Regions from separate parts of the Homo sapiens genome. Here region 2 is reported to be linked to region 1. Evidence: microRNA targets listed by miRTarBase, many of them from high-throughput screens and not tested one by one. Region 1 holds a microRNA gene; the other region holds the end of a gene's coding sequence.

Evidence for each region. The annotated mature microRNA hsa-miR-585-3p reads UGGGCGUAUCUGUAUGCUA and lies in region 1 at 2,030-2,048, shown strand. An mRNA with a match to its seed (bases 2 to 7 or 8) in the 3' UTR can be bound and repressed. Matches are read on the target gene's strand: a 7mer-m8 pairs with bases 2 to 8, a 7mer-A1 pairs with bases 2 to 7 and ends in A, and an 8mer does both.
Region 2: miRTarBase lists MAPK1 as a target of hsa-miR-585-3p. The part of its 3' UTR that is shown has no 7-base or 8-base seed match.

What each region holds. Positions count from the first base shown.
Region 1 is chr5:169,261,597-169,265,663 of GRCh38, reverse strand. MIR585 (microRNA 585) reads left to right here and starts at 1,970; the gene lies at 1,970-2,063. The region is part of intron 1 of SLIT3 (slit guidance ligand 3); the gene reads left to right.
Region 2 is chr22:21,765,447-21,769,513 of GRCh38, reverse strand. It overlaps MAPK1 (mitogen-activated protein kinase 1), which reads left to right. Exons shown (of 9, transcript NM_002745.5): 8 at 194-319. The coding sequence ends at 310. Among named protein-coding and RNA genes, the nearest start is that of YPEL1, 32 kb to the right of the region's middle. RefSeq lists an enhancer at 2,363-2,432.

The DNA.
Region 1 (4,067 bases):
TAAGATGGAGAAACAGAAGCTTAGGGATGAGTTAAATAACCTGCCTAAAATCATGCTCTATTTGCTAAGATTTGAGCCCAGGCTATCTGATTCTAGGGCCTGCCACCTTAAGCGCTATGTTTGGCAGCAGGGATCTCAAACTCTGATGCGAAAAAAGATTAAGCAGGTAACTTGAGTGAGGGAATTGGATCAGGTGGACTGGTGAATTGCAGGCATGTACCTTATGCAAAGTGGGCAATTGCCTCTTAGTACCAGCTTATGATGGCCACTAAAATCCATTGTTATTTGATGGACTGACCTTTGGAGACAAGCCAGAATTGTAGATTTGTATTTGAAATGCTCCCAAATTGGCAATTAATTTGCATATGTGAAAATCACAGTGAGAACCAGACTACGCAGGTCTGCAGGCCAGAACTCACCGGTGGGCTACCAGTTTGCAAGTTCGTCTCTGCTGTTCCCAGTAAAGAGCTAGTTGTACGTTTTGTTTGTTTGTTTGTTTGTTTGTTTTTGAGCATGGAGCTGAACTGAGCAAAACAGGGGCAGGGAGTCCTCCTGGTGCAAGGGATGAAGGAAAAGAGACCCCATGCCCAATACTCCTCTTTACATGCCCTCACCATGACCACATCCAACCACCCGGGTTGCCCCTCTGTTTGGCCCATTCTTCTCCCTGCAGGTAGCTGTCTGCACAGGGCTGGCTGCAAGCTTTTGCAGGTGTAAAATTATATATGCGAGAGTGTTGCCAAGCCAAAAATTTAGCCCAGAGAGGCTTAGTTCCCAAACAACTGAGGTAGTGTGAAGCCAGTTTTTAAAATCAAATTCAGCTCATTTCTTTCCCAAATGCGTGTATGTTTTTAAACTTGCATGTGGTTATGTAACAGATGAGAACGAAGTGCAAAAATCAGAATAGTTAATAATGCCTCCTGTGGTGTGAGTCTGGAGAGGTAAAGCATGAGATGGGAGCCCTATAAGGGTGGCCCAAAGGGAAACACTGCTCTCCTTGACCTGGTAGGAAGGTGATTTGATGGTTTTCAAACACATGCTGTTTCTCTCTTTCATCAGGGTAGCTGGGTGGGTGGCATTAGGTCCTTTGGACTGGGGAGAGGAGACAGAGGAAGACACCCATTAGGACCGCCTGATGTGAGCAGTTTCAGAGGTCTGCCCTTGGGCTCATCAAAAAGCATCTTCCGGCCAGGCACGGTGGCTCACGCCTGTAATTCCAGCACTTTGAGAGGCTGAGGTGGGTTTGAGGTCAGGAGTTTGAGACCAGCCTGGCCAACATGGTGAAACCCTATCTCTACTAAAATTAGCCAGGCATGGTGGTACATGCATGTAATCCCAGCTACTCGGGAGGCTGAGGCAGGAGAATCCCTTGAACCCAGGAGGTGGAGGTTGCAGTGAGCCGAGATTGCACCACTACACTCCAGACTGGGAGACAGAGCGAGACTCTGTCTCAAAAAACAACCCCCAAAACCAAAAAGCATCTTCCTTTGGCTAAATGGCTAAAATTCCAGAGTCTTGAATGGCTTAAACTCTGCATGGTCACTTTATCTATGGGGAGAGTCTTAGGTTAACTGGACTCCTTTTTTCAGTGGTTTTTTTTGGAAGGTAGGAGGTATATTGAATAATACATGTTTACTCCAGAAAACATTGATAATACTGATAAGCAAAATGTAAAATGTTTAAAAAAAAAAAACCCCGTTTCTCCACCCCGAGAAACCTAGTGTACATTTTTCTGAGTGTCTCCATGAGGCCTTCATCCAAGGTGTCTGGAGGAAGTTGGGGAGTATCCTCTTCAAGGTCCTTTGGGAGACAAGGCAGACACACAGGAAACAGGCAGCAGCAAGGCAACGTGATGAAAGACCAAAATGAGTTGTGCAGAGAGAGGGTAAATGATCCAGAAGTTCAGAAGTTCAGGGAAGGGAGAAGCCAGCACGAGATGGAGCAGCTGGGGGAGGCTGCAGGGGGAGTGTGGGGTGTCTGTGCTATGGCAGCCCTAGCACACAGATACGCCCAGAGAAAGCCTGAACGTTGGGCGTATCTGTATGCTAGGGCTGCTGTAACAATGTACCACAAACTGGGTGCCTTACAACAGCAATCATCCTTTCAGACTTCTGGAGCCTCGCAATCTGAAATTGAGGTGTCATCAGGGCCAGGCTCCTTCTGAAATCTGCAGGGGAGGGCCCTTCCTTGCTCCTTCCTGGCTCCTGGGCTTGCCAGCAGCCCTTGGCATTCCTTGGTTTGTAACTGCATCACTCCAGTCTCTGCCTCTGTTGTCACACGGCACTATACCTGCATGTCTGTCTCGTCGTCTTTTTATTATTTTTCAGAGACAGGGTCTTGCTCTGTCACTCTGGCTGGAGCAGTGCAATCATAGCTCACTGCAGCCTCTGCCCCCCTGGGCTTAAACAATCCTGCCACCTCAGCCTCCTGAGTATCTGGGACTATAGGCAAGTACCACCATGCCTGGCTGGTTTTCTCTTTTGTAGAAATAGGGTCTTGCTATGTTGCCCAGGCTGGTCTCAAACTCCCTTCTGGCCTCAAGTAATCCTTCTGCATCAGCCTCCCAAAGTGCTGGGATTATAGGTGTGAGCCACTTTGCTCAGCCCTGTCTCCTCTTCTAATAAGGACACCAGTCCTATTGGATTAGGGTCCACCCTAATGACCTCAATTTAACCTGATTACATCTGCAAAGACCCTACTTTCAAATACGATCACACTCATAGGTAGCTGGGGTTAGGACTTCAATATATCTTTTGAGGCACACAATTCAGCCCATAACAGAGCAGTAGGATTTAAATGGACGCAGGACTTTGAGGGCTTCTGAGGCCAGCATACAGACAGCAGGAACATATGTGCCAATGAAGTGCCTAGCACAGTTCCTGGATCTGATAGGTGCTCAATACATGTCTGTGGCTATAAAGAAGAAAGAATTAAATGAGGCAAGCTGAGGGCAGTAATGAGAACCCCCTTCTTATTGAGCTGTGGAATGAAATTGACATTTGGGGGAAATTAATCTGGCAGGATTGATGGCAGGGGAATGAGGCTGAGGGCTCTTAAATTGGTGGTTTCCTTGCTCGGCCCCTTTTATGGTTCCAGTCCCCAAGCATGTTGTCAGCCCCATAGATGCCTCACAGCCTGGACACCACCTGCCTCTGTGATCCCATTTGGTGTCACTCTGCTGCCGTCACCTGGACCTTTTTGTTTCCATTCTTCCACCTGGAAACGTCTCCCTTCAGCCTGTCCTTCAACTGGATCCTTCTTTTCCTTCTAGTCTCAGACCAAATCTCACTCTCTAAGAGAGGTTCTTCCTGGACACCCTAGGGAGGGCAGTGCCTTCACTGCCTCTCACCATATCTTTATTCTCTTCACCTCACCCTGTACTGTTTCCTAGCTATGCCCATATTGCAGTCTGTAGTCTCCTTGTTTATTTGTGGTGGCCTATCTCCCCCTGTGTTTTTTATTGTCATATAATGATAGCAAACTTCGTGGCTTAAAACAACAGGCATTCAGCACCTTCCATTTGTCTCGGCCCTCTGCTTCAGGGTTTCATAAGGCTGCACACAAGGGTTTGGTTGAGGTTGTGATCTCATCTCAAGGCTCAACTGGAGAAGGACCTGCTTCCAAGCTCTCAAGGTTATTGGGATAATTCAGTTCCTTGCAGTCTATTAGAAGGCTTCAGGTTCCTGCTGGTTGTCTTGAATTCTTGGTTGGTTGTGGGTAGAGGCTGCCTCCAGTTCCTTGGCATGTGGGCCTCCCAAACATGGCCACCTGCTTCATCACAGCCAGCAAGAGAAAGAGTCCTATAGCAAGACGGGCATTGCCGTCCCATGTAACATGTCACAAAGGTGACATCCGACCACCTTTTTTGTGTTGCATGGGTTAGAAGCAGGTCTCTAGGTTCTGCCCACTCAAGGAGAGGGGAAGGTGTTGATACTGGGGACCACCTTAGAATCTGTCTGCGGCATTCAGCAAAGAAATAAAAGTTCCTTAAAAGGAACTTCTTTGCTATTGTTTTACTGTCTATCCTTAGCCATCAGCATAGTGCCAGGTCTGGAGTAGGTGTTTAA
Region 2 (4,067 bases), not on the chromosome of region 1:
GCCTGCCTCAGCCTCCCAAAATGCTGGGATTACAGGTGTGAGCCACCGCGCCCGGCCATCAACTCTTAAGTTTTTATGAGACATCAGTCCTGTTGTAAATTCAGAATCTGAGCAGTGGTCATTTTATGAATCAGTAAATTACTGCCTTACCCATAACAACTTTGACTGTTAAATGTTTTGTTTTCTTTTAAAGCCCATCGCCGAAGCACCATTCAAGTTCGACATGGAATTGGATGACTTGCCTAAGGAAAAGCTCAAAGAACTAATTTTTGAAGAGACTGCTAGATTCCAGCCAGGATACAGATCTTAAATTTGTCAGGTACCTGGAGTTTAATACAGTGAGCTCTAGCAAGGGAGGCGCTGCCTTTTGTTTCTAGAATATTATGTTCCTCAAGGTCCATTATTTTGTATTCTTTTCCAAGCTCCTTATTGGAAGGTATTTTTTTAAATTTAGAATTAAAAATTATTTAGAAAGTTACATATATTCTCCTAGGAATCTCTCTCTCGTTTATTAGAAACTCCAAGTACCTCCTTTACTCTCAAGGGTAGTGAATGTGATTATTTGGAAACAACTTTTTCATATTCCAGATTGTTCATCTTTGGGTTCTCATCCTTTCCTTGCTGCCTGTCCAGAGCAGTTTCACAGTTACATGAGCATCTCTCTGGAAAGGGTTCGCCTCAGGACTCCCTCCCATGGAAAGCAGAGCCACCAGTTAAATAAATTTAGTATTAGAGTCCTCTGTGCCTGCCCCTTCAGAAACTCCTAGCTGGGACCTGGTTCTACAGTTGATGTCACATGCAAGGGGCCCAGACCCTGTTACCAGTTCAGACTAGCAGTGTAGGCTGGAGAGCTGGAGAAACTTCATCCAGGAGATGGAGGCTGGGCTGGCCAGTCAGGGGGATTTACATGGGCCTGCACAGAAGCTACATGTGCTTAGATCATAAGGGAAGGTGAACAATGTGACAATATTGGTAGATTTTAAAAATTGAGCAGGCCCAACACAATGGCTCATGCCTATAATCCCAGCACTTTGAGAGGCTGAGGGGAGAGGATCGCTTGAATCTCAGAGTCCAAGGCTGCAATGAGCTATGATTGTATCACTGCACTCCATCCTGGGTGAACCCTGTGTCAGAAAAGAAAAGTATACAGGAAAAGAATGCAAATCTTGATTTTAGAGAGTATGTGACAAGAGGAGAGAGAACTGGACTTGTGTTTAGAACTCTATAGAAAGAAGCAGTGAATAAAGAATTGTGGGCCAGGTGCGGTGGCTCACACCTGTAATCCCAGCACTTTGGGAGGCCGAGGCAGGTGGATCACGAGGTCAGGAGATCGAGACCACGGTGAAACCCCGTCTCTACTAAAAATACAAAAAATTAGCTGGGCACAGTGGCAGGCGCCTGTAGTCCCAGCTACTCGGGAGGCTGAGGCAGGAGAATGGCGTGAACCCGGGAGGCGGAGCTTGCAGCAAGCCGAGATTGCGCCACTGCACTCCAGCCTGGGCGACAGAGCAAGACTCCGTCTCAAAAAAAAAAAAAAAAAAAAAGAATTGTGAGCCAAGGTAGAAGCAGTTGCTGGGGAGATGCTTTGGACAGAACCGTGTTGCAGTTAGAGGCGTCCATTCCCCGTCAGTAAGAACAAAGAACCAAGTAGACATGAGCTGAGGACTGACATGACCAACTCAGCCTCCAAGCAGATAGCCCTGAAAGCCAGGCAGGGCAACAGAACGAGGAATTGGTAGGGAATAGACACTAGTAGTTTGGGGGCCGGAAAATGGTGTTTTCAAAAGTCTGACATCAAAGCAGGAGGGGTTGAAATGAGGGAATACTGGGTAGGAGATCAGCTAAGAACAAATGCCTGGTCTTCCATACCAAAGGGGCCGTAGCCTTGGACTAGAAATGAAGTGGTGAGAAGCGGCAAATTCAAGAGGAGGAGGAAAGGCAAAGTCTTAAAGACTCCAAGTTTTCTAAACCTACCAACTTGGGGGAGGCAGGGCTGCTGGCACTGTTAAGCCCTCACTTAGCCTGCTGTTAACACCAGACGCACCCCAAAAGACGATCTCTCAAACCCAAGGGAAGTGTTGTGGAGTCACGCGAACAGGACGTGCAGTGGACTGCTAGCCATAAGCCTTGCGGAGTGACTGAGAAAGAAGCCTGTTATCAGCAGGGGCTGAGCTGGTTCATGTCTTCTGTTGCCCCATACACATGTGGCTCTCTAGTGGAGGAGGTGTTAGCCACAGTGATTTGCACAATCACTCACTGACAGAAAGCTGGGCCCCAGGATCCAACCATTTTCACACCTGCAGTCCCCACAGAACTTCCTTCCTGGCTCCTCTGTGAGGTGCTCACAGTGGAGCAATTGTCTCTGTTTCTCAAGAGTCCGTCCCTCTCCCTCCGTGAGGCTCCAGGACACACTCCCAGTGTCTGTACAAGGTCAGGTTAACTAGACCTTGGTCAGCCCGCTGCCTTTCCTCTACAGCAGCGGCGTGGGGTAGTCATAACAGACCTGGATGGCCTGTGAGGCCTGCCCTTCTGTGAAGAGCACTCTCTTGCCGTTTACAGAACCTAGAATATTGAGCTGAGCAACTTCTGTTGCTTTTCTTCCTTCACAGTTCCTTTCACAGTCATTTTCCCTCAGCCAGGTGGTGGCTTGTGAGCATCTCATCTCTGTCGCTTCAGGTCAGGCGGCAGTGCTGCCTGCTTAGTCTGCATTAGACACTAACAGCAAACGCGGCAAGCAGGACCTAAACACAGCCTCAGAGGGGCCCATGTAGTAGGGGAGAAAGACACACACACACACAACTGTGCACATTTTTAGTATAAAAGAGCTTCTGGGGTTGACGTGATAATTTGTTTTTCATCATTTAATCAGCATTGAGCACTTCCTTTCGCCAGTTAGGAAAGGAACAAAGATGAATAAAACCCAGGTTTTGCTTTCCAGCAGCCTCATAGCAGGAAATGTAAACAACAAGGAGTATACAGAGTCCCAGAGATGGACACAGGCATGGTGGGTCCCAGAGAGTAAGGCAGACATTAAAGCCTCACAGAGTGTGGCCGACTCGCGGCAGTTGTGCTGCAGCTGAAACCTGACAGTTGGGTTCTTTGCTGGTTGGGGAGGGGCACAGCTGTGTGGACCCTGGAAGGCGGGCATGCCAGACAGCTGGGCAAGAGGGGGGCTGCAGAGAAAGAGGCCAGCCCAGGCTGTGGCCCTTGCTTCCCCAGGAGGCCAGCTCTCCCTCACAGGTAGCTGCCTGACCTGAAGCAGTGGCTCAGGTGACTCTGGTGGCAGTAAGGATGCAGGAGGACCTCTGAGAGCAGGGACTTGGGGGAAAACTGGTCAGGCCACTGAAGAGACAGGCAGCACCGCAGGCACAAGGATGGCAAGACAGAGGCAGGGTTGCTCCTGAGGCCACAGGGCGCAGTTGCTGGCAGAACGCCTCCTGAAGCCAGCTTTGCAAGGCGGGGGACCAGTATCCCTCTCAGGTCCACCACCACTCTGAGAGTCCCGGCGTGGCAAGGACAGTCACCTCTGTGCGTTGTTCATTTGCTCCAGACACAGAAGACACACAGATGCTCCCTATGTGCTTATAGCATGATTTTTTTTCCCAACATTCTTTTAGTGACAGTTTTCAACTATTCTGAAAAGTTGAAGGAATTTAAAGTAGACACCCATATTCCCACCACCTAGATTATACAGTTAACATTAACATCTTACTTGTTTTCTCATAGATCTGTCCATCTGTTCCTCTATCCACCCATCAACCCATCGCATTTTATCCATTCATTGCAAAGGACGTTGCCAACGTCTAGACTGACTTACAATTTAGTCATCTAGAATATCACATGAATCCAGGGGAAGCTGGGGCTGGGTTGGCTGATTAAACTATGGGATAGGTTCTTTCATAAACATTTCATTTTGGTGATCACAACAGAATTTTGGGAAGTCAGCATGCATCCATGTTTATAATTGAGGAAACTGAAGACAGGAGCCTTTGAGCACTTCGCTCAAAATTGTACATCAAGTGGCAAAACTAGGCAGAGAATCCAGGTATTTTGGACCCAGAATGTCA